5 separate regions of the Homo sapiens genome follow, and regions 1, 2, 3 and 4 are each reported to be linked to region 5. The links are microRNA targets in miRTarBase. Many come from high-throughput screens and were not tested one by one. Region 5 holds a microRNA gene; each other region holds the end of a gene's coding sequence.
What was found. The annotated mature microRNA hsa-miR-6817-3p reads UCUCUCUGACUCCAUGGCA and lies in region 5 at 1,625-1,643, opposite strand. An mRNA with a match to its seed (bases 2 to 7 or 8) in the 3' UTR can be bound and repressed. Matches are read on the target gene's strand: a 7mer-m8 pairs with bases 2 to 8, a 7mer-A1 pairs with bases 2 to 7 and ends in A, and an 8mer does both.

Region 1: the mRNA of CD86 is a reported target of hsa-miR-6817-3p. Seed matches in the 3' UTR shown: 7mer-A1 at 1,219-1,225, 7mer-A1 at 1,221-1,227, 7mer-A1 at 1,223-1,229, 7mer-A1 at 1,225-1,231, 7mer-A1 at 1,227-1,233 and 7mer-A1 at 1,238-1,244.
Region 2: the mRNA of HSPA6 is a reported target of hsa-miR-6817-3p. The part of its 3' UTR that is shown has no 7-base or 8-base seed match.
Region 3: miRTarBase lists FBXO2 as a target of hsa-miR-6817-3p. Seed matches in the 3' UTR shown: 7mer-A1 at 4,677-4,683.
Region 4: the mRNA of RDX is a reported target of hsa-miR-6817-3p. Seed matches in the 3' UTR shown: 7mer-A1 at 1,562-1,568, 7mer-A1 at 1,564-1,570, 7mer-A1 at 1,566-1,572, 7mer-A1 at 1,568-1,574, 7mer-A1 at 1,578-1,584, 7mer-A1 at 1,580-1,586 and 2 more.

Annotation. Positions count from the first base shown.
Region 1 is chr3:122,119,178-122,124,281 of GRCh38, forward strand. CD86 (CD86 molecule) reads left to right here. Exons shown (of 7, transcript NM_175862.5): 7 at 261-1,959. The coding sequence ends at 357. Among named protein-coding and RNA genes, the nearest start is that of CASR, 62 kb to the right of the region's middle.
Region 2 is chr1:161,525,904-161,530,996 of GRCh38, forward strand. It overlaps HSPA6 (heat shock protein family A (Hsp70) member 6), which reads left to right. Exons shown (of 1, transcript NM_002155.5): 1 at 1-991. The coding sequence ends at 687. TRL-CAG1-6 (tRNA-Leu (anticodon CAG) 1-6) reads right to left here and starts at 4,521; the gene lies at 4,439-4,521.
Region 3 is chr1:11,643,864-11,648,957 of GRCh38, forward strand. It overlaps FBXO2 (F-box protein 2), which reads right to left. Exons shown (of 6, transcript NM_012168.6): 6 at 4,524-4,965. The coding sequence ends at 4,831. Among named protein-coding and RNA genes, the nearest start is that of FBXO2, 8.0 kb to the right of the region's middle.
Region 4 is chr11:110,227,094-110,232,197 of GRCh38, reverse strand. RDX (radixin) reads left to right here. Exons shown (of 14, transcript NM_002906.4): 14 at 165-2,757. The coding sequence ends at 329. Among named protein-coding and RNA genes, the nearest start is that of RDX, 67 kb to the left of the region's middle.
Region 5 is chr22:25,452,231-25,457,334 of GRCh38, reverse strand. It overlaps MIR6817 (microRNA 6817), which reads right to left and starts at 1,689; the gene lies at 1,624-1,689. It also overlaps the pseudogene CRYBB2P1. RefSeq lists an enhancer at 1,519-1,622.

The DNA.
Region 1 (5,104 bases), not on the chromosome of region 5:
AGCCTGCAGAGGGCAGGCAGCAGAGAACCGGCAGAGGGCATGGGAAGGGCCAGGCAGAAATAAAGGGTAGCTCTTGAAGCATAGATGACAGTGTAGACCGTGGTTCTTTTCTCTTGCTTTCTCCACCTTTCTCTTCAATAGTTTGTTTCTCCTCATTGCTGTTCCAATGGCAACCTCTATTCTGCCCTATCATTGAAATCTAGAAAAAGAAAGTAGCTCAAATGTGAAATATCACCTAATCTTTTCTTCTATTTCTCCAGAGAAAAAATCCATATACCTGAAAGATCTGATGAAGCCCAGCGTGTTTTTAAAAGTTCGAAGACATCTTCATGCGACAAAAGTGATACATGTTTTTAATTAAAGAGTAAAGCCCATACAAGTATTCATTTTTTCTACCCTTTCCTTTGTAAGTTCCTGGGCAACCTTTTTGATTTCTTCCAGAAGGCAAAAAGACATTACCATGAGTAATAAGGGGGCTCCAGGACTCCCTCTAAGTGGAATAGCCTCCCTGTAACTCCAGCTCTGCTCCGTATGCCAAGAGGAGACTTTAATTCTCTTACTGCTTCTTTTCACTTCAGAGCACACTTATGGGCCAAGCCCAGCTTAATGGCTCATGACCTGGAAATAAAATTTAGGACCAATACCTCCTCCAGATCAGATTCTTCTCTTAATTTCATAGATTGTGTTTTTTTTTTAAATAGACCTCTCAATTTCTGGAAAACTGCCTTTTATCTGCCCAGAATTCTAAGCTGGTGCCCCACTGAATTTTGTGTGTACCTGTGACTAAACAACTACCTCCTCAGTCTGGGTGGGACTTATGTATTTATGACCTTATAGTGTTAATATCTTGAAACATAGAGATCTATGTACTGTAATAGTGTGATTACTATGCTCTAGAGAAAAGTCTACCCCTGCTAAGGAGTTCTCATCCCTCTGTCAGGGTCAGTAAGGAAAACGGTGGCCTAGGGTACAGGCAACAATGAGCAGACCAACCTAAATTTGGGGAAATTAGGAGAGGCAGAGATAGAACCTGGAGCCACTTCTATCTGGGCTGTTGCTAATATTGAGGAGGCTTGCCCCACCCAACAAGCCATAGTGGAGAGAACTGAATAAACAGGAAAATGCCAGAGCTTGTGAACCCTGTTTCTCTTGAAGAACTGACTAGTGAGATGGCCTGGGGAAGCTGTGAAAGAACCAAAAGAGATCACAATACTCAAAAGAGAGAGAGAGAGAAAAAAGAGAGATCTTGATCCACAGAAATACATGAAATGTCTGGTCTGTCCACCCCATCAACAAGTCTTGAAACAAGCAACAGATGGATAGTCTGTCCAAATGGACATAAGACAGACAGCAGTTTCCCTGGTGGTCAGGGAGGGGTTTTGGTGATACCCAAGTTATTGGGATGTCATCTTCCTGGAAGCAGAGCTGGGGAGGGAGAGCCATCACCTTGATAATGGGATGAATGGAAGGAGGCTTAGGACTTTCCACTCCTGGCTGAGAGAGGAAGAGCTGCAACGGAATTAGGAAGACCAAGACACAGATCACCCGGGGCTTACTTAGCCTACAGATGTCCTACGGGAACGTGGGCTGGCCCAGCATAGGGCTAGCAAATTTGAGTTGGATGATTGTTTTTGCTCAAGGCAACCAGAGGAAACTTGCATACAGAGACAGATATACTGGGAGAAATGACTTTGAAAACCTGGCTCTAAGGTGGGATCACTAAGGGATGGGGCAGTCTCTGCCCAAACATAAAGAGAACTCTGGGGAGCCTGAGCCACAAAAATGTTCCTTTATTTTATGTAAACCCTCAAGGGTTATAGACTGCCATGCTAGACAAGCTTGTCCATGTAATATTCCCATGTTTTTACCCTGCCCCTGCCTTGATTAGACTCCTAGCACCTGGCTAGTTTCTAACATGTTTTGTGCAGCACAGTTTTTAATAAATGCTTGTTACATTCATTTAAAAGTCTACATTTTCTGCTTTGGCTTCAAGAGTACTACTCAACCCTTGTGGTCTGATGTTCCCTGCTCTGTCCTCTGAATGTACTTCCTTTCTCTTTACATCTCTATGGCTAGAAGCCTCTCACGCATCCTGTATCTTCTCCTCCTCCCTTTTCCCTACCATTATTTGAGAAAGGAGGCTTGTATACTTCTATATGTTTATCTCAGTAATAAGTCATAAAAAATCAAGTAAGAATGGTTGTTTTTGAGGACAACTAAGAAATCTGGAATAAGGAAGGGAAGCTTACTTTTGAGTTTGTAACCTGTAGTGTGTAATTTTTTAATTATGTACTTACATGTACATTAAACAAAAGCTTAATGTAAAAATATTCCTTGAAAACACCATGATTATAAAATAAATGCATATATACACATACAGCATGTGAGAGGAGCCAGGAAAACTCTGGAAAAAAGAAAATTACCTAGACTCTGTGAGGGCAGGAATGTGTTTAATTTCTCTCCAATGGATCCTCAGACAACTAAGATAGTTGTCTATTCTATTGTCCATCTTTTTGTCTTTTGTTGTATTTCTTAAAGATTCCCTCAACTTTATCTTCTAACTTCTGTTGTATTTTTATTTCTGCTATCATGTATTCTTTTCAGAATTCTTTTTTGTTCTCTCAAAACATATCTGTTTAAAGATTGAATGAAATATTAACATGCCCTTTGGTGAGAACATCCCTCCTTTGTATATTAAATTCTCTGAACTGCTGTATTCTAAGACTAGGGGAAAGAAAAAGAAGGTTGAAAGAGGTCATTAGGCAGAATAGTACTAGCTAACATTATTTCACATTTACCATATACCCGTCACTCATCTAAACCTTTAAACTCATTATCCTATTTAATCCTCACAATGACCCTGTGACGTAGGTAATGGAATATTATGCCCATTATGCTGATGAGAAAATATAAACACAGAGATAAGTCAGAGTAATTTACCCAACATTGTTAACTTTGTAAGTGGCAGAGCTTTGTAACAGGCAGAGGTTGGAACAGTTTGGAGGGCTCAGAAGAAGACAGGAAGATGTAGGAAAGTTTGGAACTTCCCAGAGCCTTGTTGAATGGCTTTGACCAAAATGCTGATAGTAATATGGACAATGAAATACAGGCTGAGGTGGTCTCAGATAGAGAAGAGGAACTTGTTGGGAACTGGAATAAAGGTGACTCTTGCTATGTTTTAGCAAAGACACTGGTGGCATTTTGCCCCTGCCCTAGAGATTTGTGGGACTTTGAACTTGAGAGAGATGATTTAGGGTATCTGGTGGAAGAAATTTCTAAGCAGCAAAGCATTCAAGATGTAACTTTCGTGCTGTTAAAAGCATTCAGTTTTATGTATTCCCAAAAATATGGTTTGGAATTGGAACTTATGTTTAAAAGTTTGGAAAATTTGCAGCCTGACAATGTGATAGAAAAGAAAACCCATTTTCTGAGGAGAAATTCAAGCCAGCTGCAGAAATTTGCATAAGTAACAAGGAGCCAAATGTTAATTGCCAAGATAATGGGAAAATGTCTCCAGGCCATGTCAGAACTCTTTACAGCAGCCCTTCTCATCACAGGCCAAGAGGCCTAGGAGGGAAAAACGGTTTCCTGGCCAGGCCCGAGGCCTTGCTGCTTTGTGCAGTTTTGGGACTTGGTGCCCTGCATCCCAGCCATGGCTAAAAGAGGCCAAGATACAGTTCAGGTCATGGCTTCAGAGGGTGCAAGCCCCAAGGCTTGGCAGCTTCAGCACAGTGAACCTGCAGGTGCACACAAGTCAAGAATTGAGGTTTGGGAACATCCCCGTAGATTTCAGAGGATGTATGGGAACACCTGGATGTCCAGGCAGAAGTTTGCTGCAGGGGTAGAGCTCTCATGGAGAACCTCTGCAAGGGCAGTGCAGCAGGGAAATGTGGGGTTGGAGCCCCCACACAGAGTCCCCACTGGGGCACTGCCTAGTGGAGCTATGAGAAGAGGGCCACCATCATCCAGACCCCAGAATTGTAGGTCCACCAACCATGCGCCTGGAAAAGTCACCGACACTCAATGCCAACCCATGAAGGAAGTCAGGAGGGGGCTGTACCCTGCAAAGCCAAAGAGGCCAAGCTGCCCAAGGCCATGGGAGCCCACCTCTTGCATCAGCATGACCTGGATGTGAGAGATGGAGACAAAAGAGAGATCATTTTGGAGCTTTAAGATTTCACTGCCCCACTGGATTTTGGACTTGCATGGGGCCTGTAGCCCCTTTGTTTTGGCAAATTTCTCCCATTTGGAATGGGTATATTTACCCAATGCCTGTACCCCCATTGTATCTAGGAAGTTACTAACTTTCTTTTGATTTTACAGGCTCATAGGCGGAAGGTGCTTGCCTTGTCTCAGATGAGACTTTGGACTTGGGACTTTTGGGTTAATGCTGGAATGAGTTAAGACTTTGGGGGACTGTTGGAAAGGCATGATTGTATTTTGAAATGTAAGGACATGAGATTTGGGAGGAGCCAGGGGTGAAATTATATGGTTTGGCTGTGTCCCCATCCAAATCTCATCTTGAATTGTAGTTCCCATAATCTCCACGTGTTGTGGGAGGGACCCAGTGGGAGGTAATTGAATCATGTGGGCAGTTACCCCCATGCTGCTGTTCTCATGATAGTGAGTGAGTTCTCATGAGATGTGATGGTTTTATAAGAGGCTTTTCTGCCTTTTGCTTGGCATTTCTCCTTCCTATCATCCTGTGAAAGAGGATATGTTTGCTTCCCCTTCCACCATGATTTAAGTTTCCTGAGGCCTCATCAGCCCTGCTGAACTGTGAGTCAATTAAACCTCCTTCCTTTATAAATTAACCAGTCTTGGGTGTGTCTTTATTAGCAGTGTGAGAAGGAACAAATACATTAACCCAGGCTTGAAAGCAAAGAGTCATCTCTGATGACTGCATTCAACCTTTCCCTCAGCACCCACTGCTCACCCCTTCGCTCCTGCCTCATTCTGTTATCAGTCATCACTAGGCCAGGAAAGCATTCCTCCCACTTTCACACCCACCTCTTATTTTCTCATTCAGGACCTTTTTTATTCATACCAAAAACATGTCAGTCACCTCCCAACTGATCCCAGTCTCCTATCTCTCTTACCCTTC
Region 2 (5,093 bases), not on the chromosome of region 5:
ATCCAGAGGAACGCCACTATCCCCACCAAGCAGACCCAGACTTTCACCACCTACTCGGACAACCAGCCTGGGGTCTTCATCCAGGTGTATGAGGGTGAGAGGGCCATGACCAAGGACAACAACCTGCTGGGGCGTTTTGAACTCAGTGGCATCCCTCCTGCCCCACGTGGAGTCCCCCAGATAGAGGTGACTTTTGACATTGATGCTAATGGCATCCTGAGCGTGACAGCCACTGACAGGAGCACAGGTAAGGCTAACAAGATCACCATCACCAATGACAAGGGCCGGCTGAGCAAGGAGGAGGTGGAGAGGATGGTTCATGAAGCCGAGCAGTACAAGGCTGAGGATGAGGCCCAGAGGGACAGAGTGGCTGCCAAAAACTCGCTGGAGGCCCATGTCTTCCATGTGAAAGGTTCTTTGCAAGAGGAAAGCCTTAGGGACAAGATTCCCGAAGAGGACAGGCGCAAAATGCAAGACAAGTGTCGGGAAGTCCTTGCCTGGCTGGAGCACAACCAGCTGGCAGAGAAGGAGGAGTATGAGCATCAGAAGAGGGAGCTGGAGCAAATCTGTCGCCCCATCTTCTCCAGGCTCTATGGGGGGCCTGGTGTCCCTGGGGGCAGCAGTTGTGGCACTCAAGCCCGCCAGGGGGACCCCAGCACCGGCCCCATCATTGAGGAGGTTGATTGAATGGCCCTTCGTGATAAGTCAGCTGTGACTGTCAGGGCTATGCTATGGGCCTTCTAGACTGTCTTCTATGATCCTGCCCTTCAGAGATGAACTTTCCCTCCAAAGCTAGAACTTTCTTCCCAGGATAACTGAAGTCTTTTGACTTTTTGCGGGGAGGGCGGTTCATCCTCTTCTGCTTCAAATAAAAAGTCATTAATTTATTAAAACTTGTGTGGCACTTTAACATTGCTTTCACCTATATTTTGTGTACTTTGTTACTTGCATGTATGAATTTTGTTATGTAAAATATAGTTATAGACCTAAATAAGCTTTTAAAACTCCTTCTTGTTTTTCATTCCAACCAATCGAAGTACAAAAGTACCCAAAGGCTTTCAGAAGCAGAAAATGTTGGGGTGGGTGCTGAAGGAGGAATGTGAAGAATATTCCTGAGACCGTGTACATGATTCCTATAGGGGAAGGCAGGATTTGGAAAAGAATTTGAGGCCAATACATTGGAACAGTACTGAAGAGTTAGGGCTGGTAAAGAGGAGAGGATTGAGACTTACAATGCAGGAAGAGAGAGGGAGAGATGTGGAATTGGAAAAGCAGAGAATGAAGAGAAACTTAAGTACTGGCAGTGTTTCCATGTGTGATCCTATGATTCAAATTCTGTATTTTTGTCATAGGAACCTGGTTGAGTTTGTCAGTCTAGCTGTTTTAATAACACTAACAAATAGTTTACATGCTTATTAGCTGTTTGTAATCATGTCACTTTATCCATTGTTCTTTTAGAGAAAAGACTCTGAGTCCTGGACTCTGGAGGATGGTATATGTCAGAGGAAGTAGATCTGGTGGTACGATTAAAGTTACTATTGACTTTATCTATGTCAGAGAAATAGTATGATCCCATGTGGTTTCTGCCCATGGCATAATGAGGATGTTGGAACAAGACTCTATAGATTTTCAGCCCTGCCACTTTATATACTGTGCAAATTAAACTCTCCAAGCTTCAGTTTCCCCTTCCCTGCAGTGGGGATGATGATGATGATAACAGTACCAACCTCCAGACTGTTGTGAGGGTTCAATTAATTAATATATGTAAGAGGCAAAGAAGAAAGGTGTATAATATACTATCAACAAACATTAGCAATTACTATTAATTGTTAGTTGGGTGATAACTATGTATCAGGTACTTGACATACACAATCTAACTTAATCTTCACAGCAGCATTATGGAATACTATCTTCTTTTTGAAGATGAGCATTATGAGGTTCAAAGAGGTTAAACAATTTATTCAAAGACACAAAGCTATAAAGTGGGGACAGGAAGGCTGGAATGAAGAACCCTGTCCTGCCTGAGTCTAGAGCCTCAGCATGCCACCTTACAAATAGGCCATAACTCCACTTATTACCAGACCTTCCCCTAGATGTTTTGAAATTGGTCATATTATTCCTTTGAAACACAGCTGGATGCTGAGCCCCGTGAGAAAAAGTGTGCATTTTATTGTATACTTGCAGAGACAGAGTCTTGCTCTGTCGCCTAAGCTGGAGTGCAAAGGTGCGATCTCAACTCACTGCAACCTCTGCCTCCCGGGTTCAACCGATTCTCCTGCCTCAGCCTCCCCAGTAGCTGGGATTACAGTTGCCTGCCATCACACCCAGCTAAGTTTTGTATTTTTAGTAGAGATGGGGTTTCACCATGTTGGTCAAGCTGGTCTCAGACTCGTGACCTCAGGTGATCTGCCCACCTCAGCCTCCCAAAGTGCTGGGATTACAGGTGTGAGCCACCACGCCTAGCTAGTTGTGTGTTTTTTATAGCAAGTGACGGAATCTGCAAAATATCCTTAGGCACAACTTTACTGCCAGTTGAGTCAATGACAATATAAAAGCAAGGATATTTGCCTTTGCTTTGTTGGTGTAAACAAAATAATCAAAAGGATAAACTTGTGTTAGTTCCCAGTCAATCCAATCCAGAGTATATTTGCCCTATGGGCATTGGGAGATTTATTTTTATCTCAGAAATTATGGGAGAGCTTGGCTAGAACAATGCTACATTATACATTATATTTCTTAGGTTGATTTTTTAAAGACGGAGAGAAGGTTACACTAACAACTCACTTGTCCCTGGCTGTCATTTCACATTTTTAACTGCCCTCTTTTCCTGGCCCTGGCCCAAGTCTTACGCAGCCTGGCTTCACATGGAAGGAACCTGAAAAAAAAAAAAAAGAGAGAGAGAGATGGAGTAACACGTACATCCTGCATTACATTCTTCCTTTCCTGAATCTCATCTCAATTCTCAACATTGACCCCCCTCAACCTGTTTGAACTTCTCAAGAGGATTGATAGTACTCACTTTTTTATAGTTTCTTAGTATTTTGATAGTATGCCTTTTATCCTTTTAAAAAACCCAACACACACAGAATATAAGAAGAAAGATTTTTATCGTGTTTAGTTGTGACATCTCAGATCCTCCCATTTGAGTGCAATCTATTTTTCTATAGAGAAATATAAACAAACTTTATTTACTTTTAAACGTCTGTTGATCATTTTGGTTTAGTTTCTTTGGGGACTGTTTCTTGTATACTAGGTATCTAAAAATCCTTATATTGTATGTAGTCTTAGTTTGATTATTGTAATCACAACTATGTCACCCAGTTCCAAAGGGGGGGAAAAAAGTTTGAACAAATTAAATCAGAACACATGCCCATTATTAAAAAAATCAATTCTTGGTACAAGCAGTTTCTTGCCCCCTTCCCAGGTCCTACTCCTCACAGGCAACCACTTTCAAGTTGTTGGTTTTTTAAAAGAATTTTTGATTTTGCAATAATTTTAGATGAACAGACAAGTTGCAAAGATACTACATAAAGTCATTACTCTATATCCTTTCTACTTCCCCTAATGTTAAAACCTTACATAACCATGTTATATTTATCAAACCTAAGAAATTGGCATTGGTATAACATTAATGACTAACTGTAGATTTTATTCATGTTACTTTTTTTTTTTTTGGACACAGGGTCTCACTCTGTACGCCAGGCTGGAGTGCAGCCTGGAGTCAGCCGATCTCGGCTCACAAAAACCTCTGCCCCCTGGGCTCAAGAGATTCGCCTCAGGCTCCCGGAGTAGCTGGGACTACAGGCGCGAACCCCGGGTACTTGGGAGGCTGAGGCACGAGAACCGCGTGGACCGGGAAGACGGAGGCTGCAGTGAGCCAAGATTGAGCCACTGTGCTTCAGCCTGGGGTACAGAGTGAGACCCTGTCTAAAAAAAAAAAAAAAAAAAAAAAGGCTGGGGAGCGGGGCAAGGCGGTGGGAGAACCTGATCCTTACCAAAGTTTGACACTACTGCGTTAGCGTTAAAAAAAAAAACCCAGCTAAGACTGTAGAGCAAATTAAAGGATCCTGAGTTGAGGGCGTTCTCTTGTTTAGTCAAAGGAGATGGTATCTGCCTGCCTTAGTGTGCTTGACGCACAGAAAGGGCTCAACACATTGTTGTTGAATAAAAGAATGGATAAATTGACACTGGGAAGTTGGAGTCCAAAGTTAATCTTAGTCTCAACTGCTCCCTGATTTCATAGACCAGACTCCAGCCTACAATACAGGAAAAATAGATATAGTTCTATATGTGCAGAGAAGCACAAATAATTTTCGTAAATGTAGATACCTAGGATAAAAGGCAGTGTTGACCGATCGAAAAGTCTTTCTCTAAGAATTCAAACATAATTGCTGGTTGGTTCAAATCAGGAGGAAAAGTAAGGACGGAAAACACATATTGTCAGGAGTGGGATTCGAACCCACGCCTCCAGGGGAGACTGCGACCTGAACGCAGCGCCTTAGACCGCTCGGCCATCCTGACACATGTTTTACCATGCTTCCTAATTTCTCCTAATTTTATCATATACTGATGGTGCACGCTATCAGGTCACATTAATGTGTCTATTTACTGTTTCAAATAAAATTGTAACTCTCTCTAGACCTTGTCGCAAAGCGGGAAAAATGAAACAGGCTCCGACAGCTCTTTCCTCTTTCCTCACTACCCAAACTAATCCTTAAGGCTCCATTTTCCCTGGCGACTCTTCGAGCGCCCCTCTGCTTCTGTAGAGGGGTCGAGCCATGTCAAGGTAGACCCTGTGTCGGCCCGTCTCCCTCGGATCCTCCGCACCAATCACTGTTGCTGAATCCGACACCCGGCGGATCCAGTGCGGAGTCTCGAACAGCTGCGGAGCTGGGAGCTACGGGACATGAAGAGAGCGGGGTGGAAGAGAAGACGGCGGAGGAAAATCCCCCGGCGATGCTCAACTGCGGCTTTCTCTCTCGGCTGTGAGCCGGCTCCGCCCTCCAGCTTCCAGAGCCGGTGGCTTCTGCGTTCACCGCCCCGCGCCGTTTGCGGGGCGGGGCTGATTCATAAGAATCGGTTCTCACCAATGG
Region 3 (5,094 bases), not on the chromosome of region 5:
CCCCATCCCTAGCTCCTGCTGAACAGAGCAAAGGTTTTTCCTTAATGGAAACGATATCATATCTGCTTCCTAGAGCATTTATATCTTATAGGGCAGAGCACATAGTAGGTCCTCAGGAAACTCTCTGGGTCACCTTCCTACATCTCCAAGCTCACGTCAGATCACCTCCTCACTTGCTCACTGCTCCAGCCATGCTGGCTGCCTTTCTGACCTGTGAATAAGTTCATTCCCATGTCGGAGCCTTTGGCTGCCTCTGCAGTGCTCTTTCCCCAGAGCCGTATGGCTGGTTTCTCGTCATCATGTGATTCAAGTGTCACTTCCAGCCAGGCGCCGTGGCTCATGCCTGCAATCCCAACACTTTGGGAGGCCAAGGCAGGTGGATCACTTGAGGCCAGGAGTTCAAGACCAGCCTGGCCAACATGGTGAGACCCTGTCTCTATTAAAAAAAAAAAAAAATTAGCTGGGCATGGTGGTGCACGCCTGTAATCCCAGCTACTCGGGAGGCCGAGACACAAGAATCGCTTGAATGCGGAAAGTGGAGTTTGCAGTAAGCTGAGATAGCACCATTGCACTCCAGCCTGGGCAACAGAGTGAGACTCCATCTCAAAAAAAAAAAAAAAAAGTCACTTCTTCAGACAGGTCCTCCCTGATCACCCCAACCAAAGTAGCACTCCTGCCCTCACTCTCTACACTACAGAGGCCAAGTGCCTAAGTGGCTGAGTAGAATTCCAGTTCCCGCCTGGCGTGATGGCTCATGCCTGTAATCCTAGCGCTGTGGGAGGCCAAGTCAGGTGGATCACTTGAGGTCAGGAGTTCAAAACCAGTCTGACCAACATGGTAAAACCCCATCTCTATTAAAAATACAAAAAAAAGCTTAGCCAGGTGTGGTGGCGGGCGCCTGTAATCCCAGCTACTCGGGAGGCTGAGGCAGGAGAATTGCTTGAACCCGGGAGGCAGAGGTTGCAGTGAGCTGAGATCACGCCTCTGCACTCCAGCCTGGGAGACAAAGCAAGACTCCGTACCAAAAAAAAAAAAAAAAAAAAAAAAAAGAATTCCAGTTCCATCACTTCTTAGCAGTATGGCCTAAGGCAAGTTGCTTAATCTCTCTGTGCTTCAATTTTATTTTTCTTTTCTTTCTTTTTTTTTTTTTTTTTTTTTTTTTGAGACTGAGTTTGGCTCTTCTTACCCAGGCTAATTTTTGTGTATTTTTAGTAGAGACAGGGTTTCACCATGTTGGTCAGGCTGGTCTCGAACTCTTGACCTCTGGTGATCCACCCACCTTGGCCTCCCAAAGTGCTGGGATTACAGGTGTGAACCACTGCACCTGGCCCAATTTTCTCATCTGTAAAAATGGAAGTAATCACAGTTTCCACTTCGTGAGGTTATTATGACAAATTAATATAGATAAAGCTTTTAGAGTAGTGCCTGGCTTATTGATGAAGGGCTATCTCATGTGGGTAATTATCTTGTTCACTCATTTAGTTGCTTGTGTTATGTTTCTCCATCTAGACTGTATATTCCAAGAGACCAGAGACTTTGTTTTGTCCCTACCTTACATATAGTAGGTGCTCAATAAATATCAAATGATTAGGAAGAACTGGCCAGGCACGGTGGCTCACGTCTATAATCCCAGCACTTTGGGAGGCCGAGGCAGGAGGATTGCTTGAGGTCAGGAGTTTGTGACCTGCCTGACCAACATGGCAAGACCCTATCTCTATAAAAAATAAAAATTAGCCTGGTGTGGTGGCACGTGCCTGCAATCCCAGCTACTCAGGAGGCTGAGGTGGAAGGATCGCTTGAGCCCAGAAAATTGAGGCTGCAGTGAGCCATGATCACACCACTGCACTCCAGCCTGGGTGACAGAGTGAGACCGTGTCTCTAAAATTTTTTTTTTAAATTTTAAATAAAAAATAGGATCATAGGAGACATGAAAGCCCTATCTGCTGTCTCTCGCTTCAACTGTCCCCACTGTCCTAGAGACAGCCCTGGGGTGCCCCCTGCTGGACGCCACACAGGTTTTTCCTTACAGGCAGCTGGTATATGCCATCCTATAACGTTTACACGTGGGTCCAGCTCTGTCCTCCAGGGTAGGGGACAGTAATGCTGAGAGGAGTTAAGAGCACTCACTTAAGAGCCAGATGTGCCTGGATGGGAGCTTCTGCTTCTCCAGTTACTCTGTGTCACTTGCCAGAAAACCGTAAAAGGGATGACCATGCCCTCTCCCCTGTCCCACCTGACTGGACTGTAGGGTGGTGTGATAGGACGTGCCCTATGCCCAGTGAGCCTTCTGGCCCACCTCACACAGCCCTTTGAAGGCTGAGAAGCAGTTGTCTTATCTTCCTGACCTAAACACCACTGGTGTACCCGATGTCCCTCTAGTGACAGCAAGAGTGAGCCTGAGGCCCCTCCGGTCTCCTCTGAGGGCCCCATGCTCTGGGGAGAGACCACAGCAGGCTCAGAGCCTCTGGGCTTCTGGGCAGGGCTTCTGGCTCCTTCCTCAGGCTCTTGGCTGCAGGTGGCCTTCTGGTCTTGCACCTTCCTCCCACCCATCTCCCTGCCTTCCTGGCTGCCCTGCTTTCCCTGTCCCCGGTCAGTCCGGTCTGTCGTGAGCCCAGAGGCCTCTCCTGCCTCACTCTGCACCTGTTCCCGCCCTTGGCTTTGGTTGCTGGCCACAGACACTGCAACTCCTATACCTGCATCGGCAGCCCAGGGCCCCACACTCTTTATGGGCCTCTTTCCCGAACGTCCCATGCGCACCTGAAACTCAGGGGCGCTCCCCTCCACCTGCAGCACATTCCACACCCCCCACATTCCTATGCTGACCTCCAGTCCTTGAAGGGCCAGGCCCTACCTGGCCTCCTGGCCCCTCATGCCCATGACCTGTCTCCATCTTCAGTTTCCTCCCATAGCCCAGTGCAGGCTCCGGTCCTTTCTCCACTCACCCCATCTCCTCTTAACCTGGCTCCCCACATGCCCACCCTTAGTCTCCCACCCCTAAGCATGGGAGCTCATGGGGTGAGCCTGTTCCTCCATAGCCCTTCATCAAGCTGGACCCTGAGGGCAAGGCATCAGTTCCTTTGTCTGATTGGCAGCTCGGGTGAACATGGACTGTGCCTTCCCCAGCAGACTGAAATCCCCCAGACAGGACGGAGGGCATCCTTATGGAAGAGGTTATGCCTCTCCCTTGAAACTGAGAGTTTTCTGAAGTCAAGGTTTTGTCTCCCTTGTCAGACTGAGGATGCCCCCAGAGCAGGGGCTGCATCTCCACCACTGCACTGGAGGGCCCAGGACACTGGCTCCCCCTCCCCTTGGGTCCCACCCTTCATGTGGCCAGGCTGCTGATTCTTCCTGGGAAGGAGTCTCTTATTCCCCACCGTAACTTCAGGGCCCCCACACATGACCTGGCCTGGGGTTGGGGCTCTGGGAATTGTAAATAAATGAACTAGTGAATGAATAAACAATTGCAGGCAGGCCCCAGCTTGAACCCTGCAATCCCACCAGAACAGCAGGTAGCATCAGGGTTCAGAACCGAGGCAAAGCTGGAGACTCTCGGTGATTTTACTGGTCTCCATTTCAGGAGAGGAGGGCAGAGGGTTCCAGGCCCTTCAAATGCCCACCCCTAGGACCAGCAGCTGACAGTCTTTGGAAGGGGCTGGGTCGGCCGGAAGGAGCGTGCCGGAGCACAGAGTCTGGCACAAGACCCTCCCCACCTCCCCTCCCCCAGGCCAAAGCCTGGGCCAACCTCTGGGCCAGGTTTGGAAAAGGGCCAATGAGACCAGATGCTAATGACTCCAGGGGGTGGGCACGAACTAAGAGAAACCCCAAACCAATCCTTTTTGTGCTTCCCCATCCCCACCTCCCATCCCCTACCCCAGGCCCCTCACCTCCATCCCTGGGCCCAAGAGAACTGGTACCCTAGACCCTAGCACAGTCCACACCCACCCCAGTTGCCAATCAGACAAAGGAACTGACACCTTGCCCTAGGGGCCCAGCTTGATGAAGGGCTGTGGAGGTTTGGGGAAGGTGAGGACGCTATGGACTAAGTTAAGGCCTATCTACTCCCAGCCTCTACCCTTCCAAGCAGCTGGGGGAGGGTGGAAGCAGGGCCGCTCAGGGCTCTACCCACATGCTGCTATTGGTCACCCGGGCCCTGAGAACTGGTACACCCCCAACCCCACTCTGCCTTTAGTAAAGGATGGGGGGTCATAGCAAGGCTTAGGATACTCACTGGACCAAGAGAGGCCTGGAGGGCAGCCCCCCCGCCAACATGCCCTATTCTGGCCTCTGGGCAGCTTGGGTGTCGGTCAGGCGCCAGGCTCAGCTCAACCTTCCTTGGTCTCACAATCCCAGCTTTGTCCTCCCTGGCAAGGCCGGGCCCAGCTGACTCCATACTGGCCCAAGGTCCGCTGGAAACCAGAGCAGCTGGAGCCCTACCAAGTATTTTTCCAGGCTATGCCGGGGGCCCTCAGGAGACAGAAAAGGATGGGAAGGGAGCAGTGTTTATCCATTTTTTCATTCATTCCTTCCTTGGACAAATAATATTTATTGAGAGCCCACTTTGTGGCAAGCACTGTGCTAGGTGCAGGGAATCAGCAGTGGGTCCAGTCCAAGCTCACGCCCTCACGGATCTACATTCTAGAAGCCGGCTACCTAAGCAAACCTATGCCAACAAAACTTCTCTCTCCCTGCTCAGGGGCTGGGATCGGAGCAAGGGATGGGAGGAGGATGTGTGGCTTGGGGAAGGTGAGGACGCTATGGACTAAGTTAAGGCCTATCTACCCTCGACCTTTGCCCCTCCAGGCAGCTGGGGGAGAGTGGAGGCAGGGTCGCTCAGGGTTCTACCCACACGCTGCTGTTGGTCACCCGGGCCCCGAACCAGCCCTTCCAGTAGACGGAGTCCTGCCCCCCGTGCTCGAAGCGGACGAAGCGGACGCCCGGCCCGTAGTCGGTGAAGGTGTGGGAGATCTGGGGGTGGAGGTAACAAGAGTCAGCCTCGGAGGTCCTGAGGCCTCTCCTGCCGCCCCACCCCGGTACACCGACCGACCTGCAGCTCCCCCACTCGGTTTCTCCGCGGTATTCAGAACTCTCTCCACC
Region 4 (5,104 bases), not on the chromosome of region 5:
CTTACCACTGCCACCACTATTACTAAAACAAACTTATACCTAAAGAAAAAGGTTTCACAGTGGAAATGATTTGGTATATGTATTTTTGCATCTTAAAGCCATTTTCATAAATTTTTTTAAATCTAAGAAAAAAATAATAGTTGTACTTTTTATTTTTTAAATAGGCATTAAGTTCAGAATTAGCCCAAGCCAGAGATGAAACCAAGAAAACACAAAATGATGTTCTTCATGCTGAGAATGTTAAAGCAGGCCGTGATAAGTACAAGACTCTGCGACAGATTCGACAAGGCAATACAAAGCAGCGTATCGATGAGTTTGAAGCAATGTGAGAGCTGTTATTTTGCATATATGTTCTTCATAAGCTGAACCACCAACAGAGAAAAGCAGGCCTTTGCAGATATGATGGAATGCATCCCACCTTGCCAAAGCACTTACACCAGTTTGACTGTGCTAGCTAAAAGACAAATTTAAGGGGAGCTCTTCAACATTAAGGCAGTATGATATCATGCTTGGTTTTCTTTTTTCTTTTGGTCCAGGGAATGGAGAATGGTGTTCCATTGCCTCTTTTCACATTTTTTTTCTTTTTCTTTTTTTTTTCTGTTGAAGATTAACACTAATTATCACGTCTGACAAATGTGTATGTGTGGTTTCAGTTCTGTGTACATTTTAAAGGATAATGGTGAACATTTTAATGGGTTTCCCTTGCCCTTTCCATATTTAACCTATTTCCACATTCTCTCTCACTCACATTTTCTCAGTGTGCCCTTCTCTTATCTGCCATGTCCATAGCCATAATTCCACCATCATACAGATCAGGCAGTGTTTAAAATGATGGTAGGTAGCACAGTGGACAGTCTTTGATCATCATGTAGAATATGGCTATGAATCAGGAAAGAGATTAGAACATTTAATAATGTATGTACAGCTGGTGCTTAGTTTTTTTTTAATCTAAATTTAATTACCTTATTGGATATTTGATATTTGGTTATTTAATCACAGTCATCTTTAACAGCTTACACTGATTGGTGTTTTATCTCCTGTGATCCTTTGATGGCTTTTTTTGCCTACCATTTCACAGAGGTTTAGACAGCAGTAGTAGCTCCCTAGGAGAGTTTACTGATGAAACAGCCTCTGCAAGATTTTAAAAGTTTTGTTCTTTTATAGACTGATTTAGAAAAACAAATGATTAGTTAAAAAAAGAAAATATACATTTGTTGGTAACTAATGTTATTTTTTAAAACCTGGACCTTTTCTGGAAGGGCAGCATATAAAAACATCAGTCCCGAGGAGGGGACAACAATACTACCTCACTACTACATCTGTGATGACTGGTTGTTCAAACACAATGGAGTGTGTAAGGTATATGTTTTATAATTCATAACCATAGCCTCGATCATCAAGAAATACTTTCGAAATTTCATTTTCCTTCAGAATATCTTAAGAGTGCTAAATTTTTAACTGCCTTTTTGTCGAGTCAAACTGTGGGATTCTGATTTGTATTAAAATTGTAAGCTCCTCACTGGTATACTATCATCCTGGAGGGGTGTTGTATGGCTGAGCAAGAGAGAGAGAGAATGAGAGAGAGACTGTGTGTGTGTGTGTGTGTGTGTGTGTGTGTACTCTGTGTGTGTATGAGAGAGAGAAATGCTAACCTTGTAGCATGTGAAGAATGTCTGTACCTTGATACGATAGTTACATAATCAGTATATTTGGTTTCTAGATCACTGTGCTTATTTTGTTTCAATCTCTGACTAAAAATACTTAAATTTGGTTTGTTAATTCTTATTTTAGAAATTATAATTTTAGTTTATATTAATTTCGGTTATAGCTTACTGAAGAAATCTTTCCAGTTAGAAGGAGGTTCTAATATTCACATGTTCTAATACTTTGTTTATTGTAAAACAGCTAAATTTGGAGATACGTAAAGCCTTGTTTTCTCTGTGTGGTTCAGCTACTTTCCATTTGGTATTACACAGTCAAATTTACATTTATCTATTAAAATTGCCATTTTATTAAACATTTTCATGCACAGTAGATTCAAGTTGTGTCTGAAAATATCTCTTGTGCTTTTTTGATTTTGCTGACTTTAAAAGGATTAATCTGGGCAGACATTATGTAAAAGAAAGGTTGCGTTTAATATATTTTTTGAACTTTGTAGGACAAAACATAGCTGGTTAACCTTGAAGTGACTGTTGTACCATGGTTGTGCACATGCTTCAGAATCCTATGGAAGAGAATATTCCTACTTGCAGTACATCAAAGGAATGGATGGTGGACCCTACTATTCATGTTTTGAGACATAAATGTTCACTTTAAAGCAATTGCATAATAGATAAAAACCTGAACTTTCATTGGATTTTTGTTAATTTTCCTCATTTTGAATTATGTGCACTACCATAGCTACATCAGTTTGATACAGTATTGAAAAATTATCAGTTATATTTTGCTGTTTATGATCTATTTGTAGATTAGGATTAAAATGGATTTAATCCATTTTTAAGGCTGTGTGAATTTTTCTAAACAAGAACCATTTGCAATATGGATTTCTTAGAGATTAAACCAATTATAACTTATTAGCAGTCGCGAGCACATGTTCATATAGTCAATGTAAAAATACACTAATGAGTATTTGGTAAATCCCAGTAGGCTTTTACCATTAGCATAATTTTGTGTTGTACAATTAAGTTACAATTACATCTCTAATTTTGGATAATATTCATTGGTTAACAATAAAGTGACAAAAGCTCATGCCTTCAAGGTCCACTGTTGTTATTTAACATGGATTTTTTGTATGTTTCTTGAAAATTACAATCTTTATCACAGCCATGAATCACCACAACTTAAAAGTAAGAAGTAGATAGGAAATAATTTTAAATCCTCATAGATCTACTCTTTCCCCGATACCTCTTTGGTATGGAAGTAATAGTGATTAATTCTGTGGAAAAGTTAAATTATTAAATTAAATTGACTTTGTTGACAACAAAACGTAATTTAGGGTTTCCAGTCATTGCCTTTATTGTATAGTGGTTAGTTTCTTTTTCCTGAGGAAGATACAGTTTCTTGTCATTGATTGATCTCACTATTAACATTTCAACATTCTTTAAAGAACTGTATGCTAAGTATATTTATGTAAGTACATGTTCTTATTTTGAAGCTGTATTATAGAACAGTTACTATAAATCTAGAAATTGCCTTTTTCAAGTCTTCTTACTAATTTTTAACTTAAATAAGTGATAAATCTATAAAAATAGTAAAAGCTAGATTTTTTTGTTGATAGTAATATTTAACTGTCACTTTATTATTTCTGTTCTCAAGGACACATAGTGATTTTTTTACTCTGATCCTGTCAGAAAATGGAATTTTAAATAATATTTTGCTTTATGTCTAATTAGAGTTTTAAGAACTGGAATGGCCCCTTATAAAGTTATGTTAGATTTTATTGGAAGTCACTCTTATCATTAGAAGTGTTTCAATATTATTGTGTTTTTTTTTAAAATCCCACTGTATTCTGTCCCAGTATTGATCACCGTGTTGATTATTAATGTTTTTAGAAATGAAAATAATTTTTTAAATTCACAGGCATCCCATTTTACATATGCACAATAAAAACAATTAGTCTTAAAAGTTAAAGCTGGAAACTAAAGTCTAAGGGATTACTAACTTTAGCATTAACATACTGAACTAATGAGTAAACCAAAGCTTAGATACCATTAGTAAGAATAAGAGAAAACAGTTCAGTGTGGAGCTGTACTGTTAGGTTCCTCTCTTAAGTCTGTTCTAAATGAACAGAACTTTAGCATTTTCTTAGTTTGTACCACTTCCATTTTTTTAACCTATCAAATATTCTAATGTGGTCTGTCAGATGGAATGACAGTATTCTAGCTCATACAAAAGCTCTTTGGATTCTGCAAATGTGTTTGATAACTTTATGAAATATTCAGGCAGCCTGACCCCCCACAGTCTACGGTAGTAACTAGGAAAAGCTGGCTCACAATCATGTTCCATATGTTAAAGATTAACACATTCTTATCCTTAGCTTTTCCAGTTAAATAATTTTAACTCCCAATTTTTCCTTAGTAGACCTACTTCTTACTATGTCCATGTATCAAGATATAAGAACTACCATTTTCTCTGTGGAAAGATCATGGCTGTATGGTTCAGCTACTTTCCATTTGGGTAGTAGACACTCAGATTTACATTTATCTGTTAAAATTGCCATTTATTTCATCAATACTTTGATTTCCCTTAACCTCTGTGATACAAGAGTTTTCTGATTTGGGGTTATATGGACTACTTTAGGAGTTGAAGTATTTCCTACACAATTTTTACATGAAAGATCTTGACTAAGGTGATACCCCATGACACATCCTTTGCATTCAGGTTTATGTTTTGGCTGTGGAGATCCCTAACTACTTGATGGCTCCGGGTTCTTATTTAATGGTCGTCATTTAGCCAATACATTTTTATTAAGAGCTGGCTATATTCAAGGACTTAGAAGCAAGATTAGGATGATTGTGACCCTTTGTTTTGGCCTATATAGGGGACTTCAAATATTAACTTATCTTAGCCTTAGATCATTTGCATTTATCTATTACAATATCATTTCTTTTAAAATGGCAATGCCATATTGTTGATTCCTGTTATTTGTATGCCCAGATTCCTCCATGTTTGTAGCTAGCTAGTTGCTTCTATCAGTGCAACTTATTTTTACCACCCTATTCTAATTGTTCTTCACTTTTATTTAATCATTATTTTAAATATTTGGATTCATTTTTATATTTATGCATGCCATTTAGTTTGCTCCTAAAAATAGTGATACTGGTTTTAGTTTTTTACTTACTAAATCAGTATAGCCAAATGTCCATCTTCCTAGTGGTAATATGCGATCAGAATTTCTGAGATTATTTATGTGACTATTTTTGGAAAAGTTTCTTTTGATAAAACATGGATTTATTATATGAAATTCTTCTTGCACTGTATTACAATATATGCTATGATATCCCTTTTATTTTTTTCAACTTAAATATGATGTTTTATATTGTTTTAGACTTACGAATCGTGTTTTTCAGAATCATAAGGGAATATCTATCTCCTCCCTCACTTT
Region 5 (5,104 bases):
CGTCATCTATGATTTCCATCTTCTTCCCGGTGAAGTTGGGGTTTTCATAGAGGATGATCTTGTGCTCTTGGCTGTCCTATTGGCAGAGGATGGGGGGAAGTGAGTATGGGTGAGGGGGCCCAGGGTTGGCCTTCCCACCCCATGCTCATGCCCCAGAGTTGGGATCAGCATGTCCCACACATCACTCTCTTCCCAATGCACCCACTACGTGTCTATGACCACTGCTGTTGGATCACAGCCGTTTGTTAAGTTTCTACTGGGCCATTTTCATGTAACAGACACTCTGCAACACTTTGGGGAATGTTTGATTCTGAAATGTCATTTTTTCCTCCTCAAGTTTCTCTTTTATAAATGGTGGCTACGATCTACCTACCCACCCACATATGAACACCCACACATACACACACACGCACACCCACACAAGCGTGCACACATACAGGCACACACGCACACTTGCACACACACACGCGCGCGCACACGTGCACACCCACACATGTACACACACATGCACACCCACACATGTGTGCACACACGTGCACACTTGCACACACACACGTGCACACACATGCACACCCACACATGTACACACACACATGCACAGGCTAACTGTGCCTCTAATAGGCACCTGAGATACTTTGATTTTTCTTCATTTCTACATCTCTTCCCATCCTCCTGTCCCTATGACATTTTCCTTAGTTATCTCATCTCATCCTTTACACATAAAACCCTTATCCCTCAGACATAAAATCCTCTTATGCCATTTAGCAGATGAGGAAAGTGCGGCACAGAGAGGTCAAATGACGTGCTCAAGGCCACACAGCTGGGAGCAGCACAGCCAACTTGGGAACCCAGGTCTGTGGGGTGCAAAGTCCAGTGTTCTCCAACCTTCCAGTAGGTCCTGGGAGGAGCTAGACTGGGCTTGGAGGGTTTGAGAGTGTAACTGAGCAGTGATGGGCCCTGTCCCCTTCCTGAGAGTTGACACTCTCACACACTAGTAAGAATCAGGATCTCAGAAGCACTGAAAACTCACACTGGCACGAGTCTTGAAGAAGAGCTAAACCACCTTCTCCTCCAGCCCCAAACTCATAATTTCTTGTAGTATTTCTGATGGCTATTGGTTATTGAGCAATGACGGGAGTTGCCCAACCCTTGGGCGCGGGGGGCGGGCACCAACCACCTAAAATAGAATGTGAATAGTGCCCTCTGGAGCATTTCATAGTCTTGTGATTGGAGCCTTCTGGAGTTGCAGTGTGACAACCCTCAAGCTAATAAGCACATTGGAACCTCAGGACAGTAGATACCAATATGCCCATTTTACAGATGAAGAAACTGAGGCTCAGGGAAGTAAAATGACTTTTGCAAGGTCACCCAGTGAGGAGGTTCCTCACCAATCAGAAGGGGCACAATGCTAGAGGGGCGGGCTCCTTCCTGGTCCCAGGACCTCCTGCTCCAAGGTGGCAGAGAGAGAAAGTAGGATGATGGCAGGGGGCTCACCACTTTGATGGGCCTCAGGCTGCTGAGTCTGTCCTCTGGCTGCTGGTCCACCAGTCCCAGTGGGCGTACTCGCCCTTCTCAAACACAAACTGCTCGCCCTTGCAGTTGGCCTGTTCATAGCTCACCCAGCTGCCATGGAGTCAGAGAGAAAGGGGGCAGGTCAGTTCCACTCCAAGCTTCCTATGGCAGAATCCTGGCTACTGATGTTGACCCCTAGGGTTCACTCTTGCCCAGCCCGGCAAGATGTAATAGCCCCACCCAAACCTTAGCACAGCAAATCCAAGTGCAAAATCCCCTCAGTTATCTAGAACTCAGTGCTATGCTGCCTTTACCCACCTGGAACACAGTTAAGAAATAAGAAGGCAGTCTAAATAACGGCCCAGCAACAAATACCAATATATAGACGCCATGCACTAAAGCCAATAGTATGCTGGTAAGTTAATAGCCAACTCTCAAAAAACAAAACGAAAATTAACACTCTTGATTTGCAGCGTTTGCCAATTTCCATGGTGTAAATGCTCCCACTGTGGCAGATTTCAAGCTATCAATACGACACGGCTGCAAGTGAAGTTAGGAAGAGAGATGCACAGTCAGCCTTCACCACTGAGAACTGACTCTAGAACATCTCTGGGCCCAAAGCCCCTCTCTTTGGATCTGTTTCTTCTCTTGTTCCTGTTGTTAGACTCTGCCCAAACTCTGTTTTTGTAGATCCACATTAGAAGAAAAATAGTACATTAAAGAGGAAGGGATGGCTTTCAGGTCGGGCATGGCTAATAGAAGAAAGCAGAAAATAGAAGAAAGAAGGCACAAATCTCAAAATGATTAGCATTCTGGGACCAACCAGTGCAGAGGCGAACATTTCAGCAATGTGCAATAATGGCTTTTCAGAGGAATGATCTAAGTCATTAACAAAAGAGGAGATCATGTTTATTATCCTCTTTTGGAAAAGTAGTCTTGATCCAGCAATTCTACTTCAGGCAATGGTTCCTTACAAAACAGTTGTCAAGGGGCTGGGCACTGTGGCTTATGCCTATAATCCCAGCACTCTGGGAAGCTGAGGTGGGCAGATCACCTGAGATCAGGAGTTCGAGACCAGTGAAACTCTATCTCTACTAAAAATACAAAAAATTGGTCAGGCATGGTGGCTCATGCCTTTAATCCCAGCACTTTGAGAGGCCGAGGCGGGCAAATCACGAGGTCAGGACTTCAAGACCAGCCTGGCCAACATGGTGAAACCCCGTCTCTACTAAAATACACAAAAATTAGCTAGGCATAGTGGCAGGCACCTGTAATCCCAGCTACTCAGGAGGCTGAGGCAGAAGAATCACTTGAACCTGGGAGGCGGAGGTTGCAGTGAGCCAAGATCACGCCACTGCACTCCAGTCTGGGCAACAGAGTGAGACACTGTCTCAAAAAATAAAAAATAAAAATAAAGAAAAAGAAGACGTTCAAGTGACCAACTGACATGAAAAAATGCACTACCTCACTAATCATCAGTGAAATGCAACTCACAAACACAATGAGATACCATCTCACGCTGGTCAGAATGGCCATTTTTCCAAAAGCAAAACAACATGCTGGCGAGGCAGGAAAGGAAAGGGAACGCTCCTACCTTGGGGAACGTGAAAACAGGTTCACACTGTGGAAAGCAGTGTAGAGATTCTCAAAGAACTTAAAACAGAACTACCATCAGACCCAGCAATTCCACTACTTAGTATCTACCCAAAAGACAATAAATCCTTCTATCAAAAAGACACATGCTCTCGTGCATTCATGGTCGTGCCATTCACAAGAACAAAGATGTGGAAGCATCCTAGATGACCAGCAACAGTGGATTTGATTTTTTAATGTGGCGCATACACACCAAAAAATACTACGCAGCCATAAGTAAAACACACAATCATGTCCTAAGCAGCATGGATAGACCTGGGGATTATTATGTTTAGCAAACCAAGGCAAGAACAGAAAACCAAATACTGCATGTTCTCACTTATGAGTGGGAGCTAAACAGTGAATACACTCGAACATAAAGATGGAAACAATAGACACTGGGGACTATCAGATGGAAAAAAGGAGGCAGAAAGGGAGTGTGGGCGGAAGAACCACCTGACGGGCACTTTGCTCACTGCCTGGGTGACGGGGTCAGTGGCCACAAGCCTCAGTGTCATCAAAGGTTCACATGTAACTAAGCTGCAATTTAATCAAAATAAAAGTTGATTTAAAAAAAAAAAAAAAAAAACAGGGTTGCCCTGGGCACAGTGGCTCCCGCCTGTAATCACAGCACTTTGGGAGGCTAAGGCAGGCAGATCACTTGAGCCTGGGAGTTCGAGAGAAGCCTGGGCAGCATGGCAAAACCCTACCTCTACAGAAAGTACAAAAAAATTAGTGGGGCATGGGGATGCGCACCTGTAGTCCCAGCTACTTGGGAGGTTGAGGAGGGAGGATCACTTGAGCCCGGGAGGTTCAAGGCTGCAATGAGCCAAGATCGCACTGCTGAACTCCAGCCTGGGTGACAGAGCAATAACCTGTCTCAAATAATAATAATAATAGGATTAGGATATATTATAGATAGATAGATAGATAGATAGATAGATAGATAGATAGATAGATAGATAGATAAAACAAAACCTACAGTCATCCAGGCAATCACTGACTGGCATAAATATAGAAAGACAACCGAATGGACAAAATGAGGGAGCCAAGTAATCAACCCAAAATTATATTTAGGGCACACATTTTTCAAAAGCACACCAAGGCACACCAGTTGAGAAAACTGGGTAGTCATGTGCAAAAGATTGAAATAGCACCCCTATGCTGCCCAATACACAAAAATCTACAAAAAATAAATCGAACAGTTAAATTCAATCCTGAAAGCAAAACACTCCAAGGAAAAAACATGGGATAAGCATATATTTGGGGGAAACTTGACACTGTGCACACAGGTCGCAAAAAGAAAAGGAAAAATTAGGGGGAAAATACGCATAGACAATAAAATGGCTTAACAATCTCTTTTTTTGGATGGAACACTGAAATCACTGGCAACAAATGCAAATATAAACATGAGAGACTAAGTACAACATTAGAGCTGCTGCACAGGACAGAACAAACGAACCCAAAGAGAAGGCATCTTAGACTAGGCATGGTGGCTCACGAGGTCAGGAGTTTGACACCAGCCTGGCCAACATGGTGAAACCCCGTCTCTAGTAATACAAAAATTAGCTGGGCACGGTGGTGCGTGCCTGTAATCCCAGCTACTCAAGAGGCTGAGGCCGGAGAATTGCTTGAACCTGGGAGGCGGAAGTTGCAGTGAGCTGAGATCATGCTACTGCACTCCAGCCTGAGTGACAGAGCAAGACTCTGTCGTGGGGAGAGGAGGGGGCAGAGAAGAAACGAACAAACAGCATCGCAAAGATGAGAAGAAAGTTTAGGGAAACATACAGCTGATAAGACCTTGTTTTCCAAAAGGCACAAGCTACTAACACTAGTAACTAGCAAAAAAACTAAACAAAAGAGAAACTAGTAACCGAACCAAAATTGGGCAAAGAGCCTGAATAGACTTTTTGGCAAAGAAGACATAACACTGACTTTATCTTTACAAAAATGTGGTTAA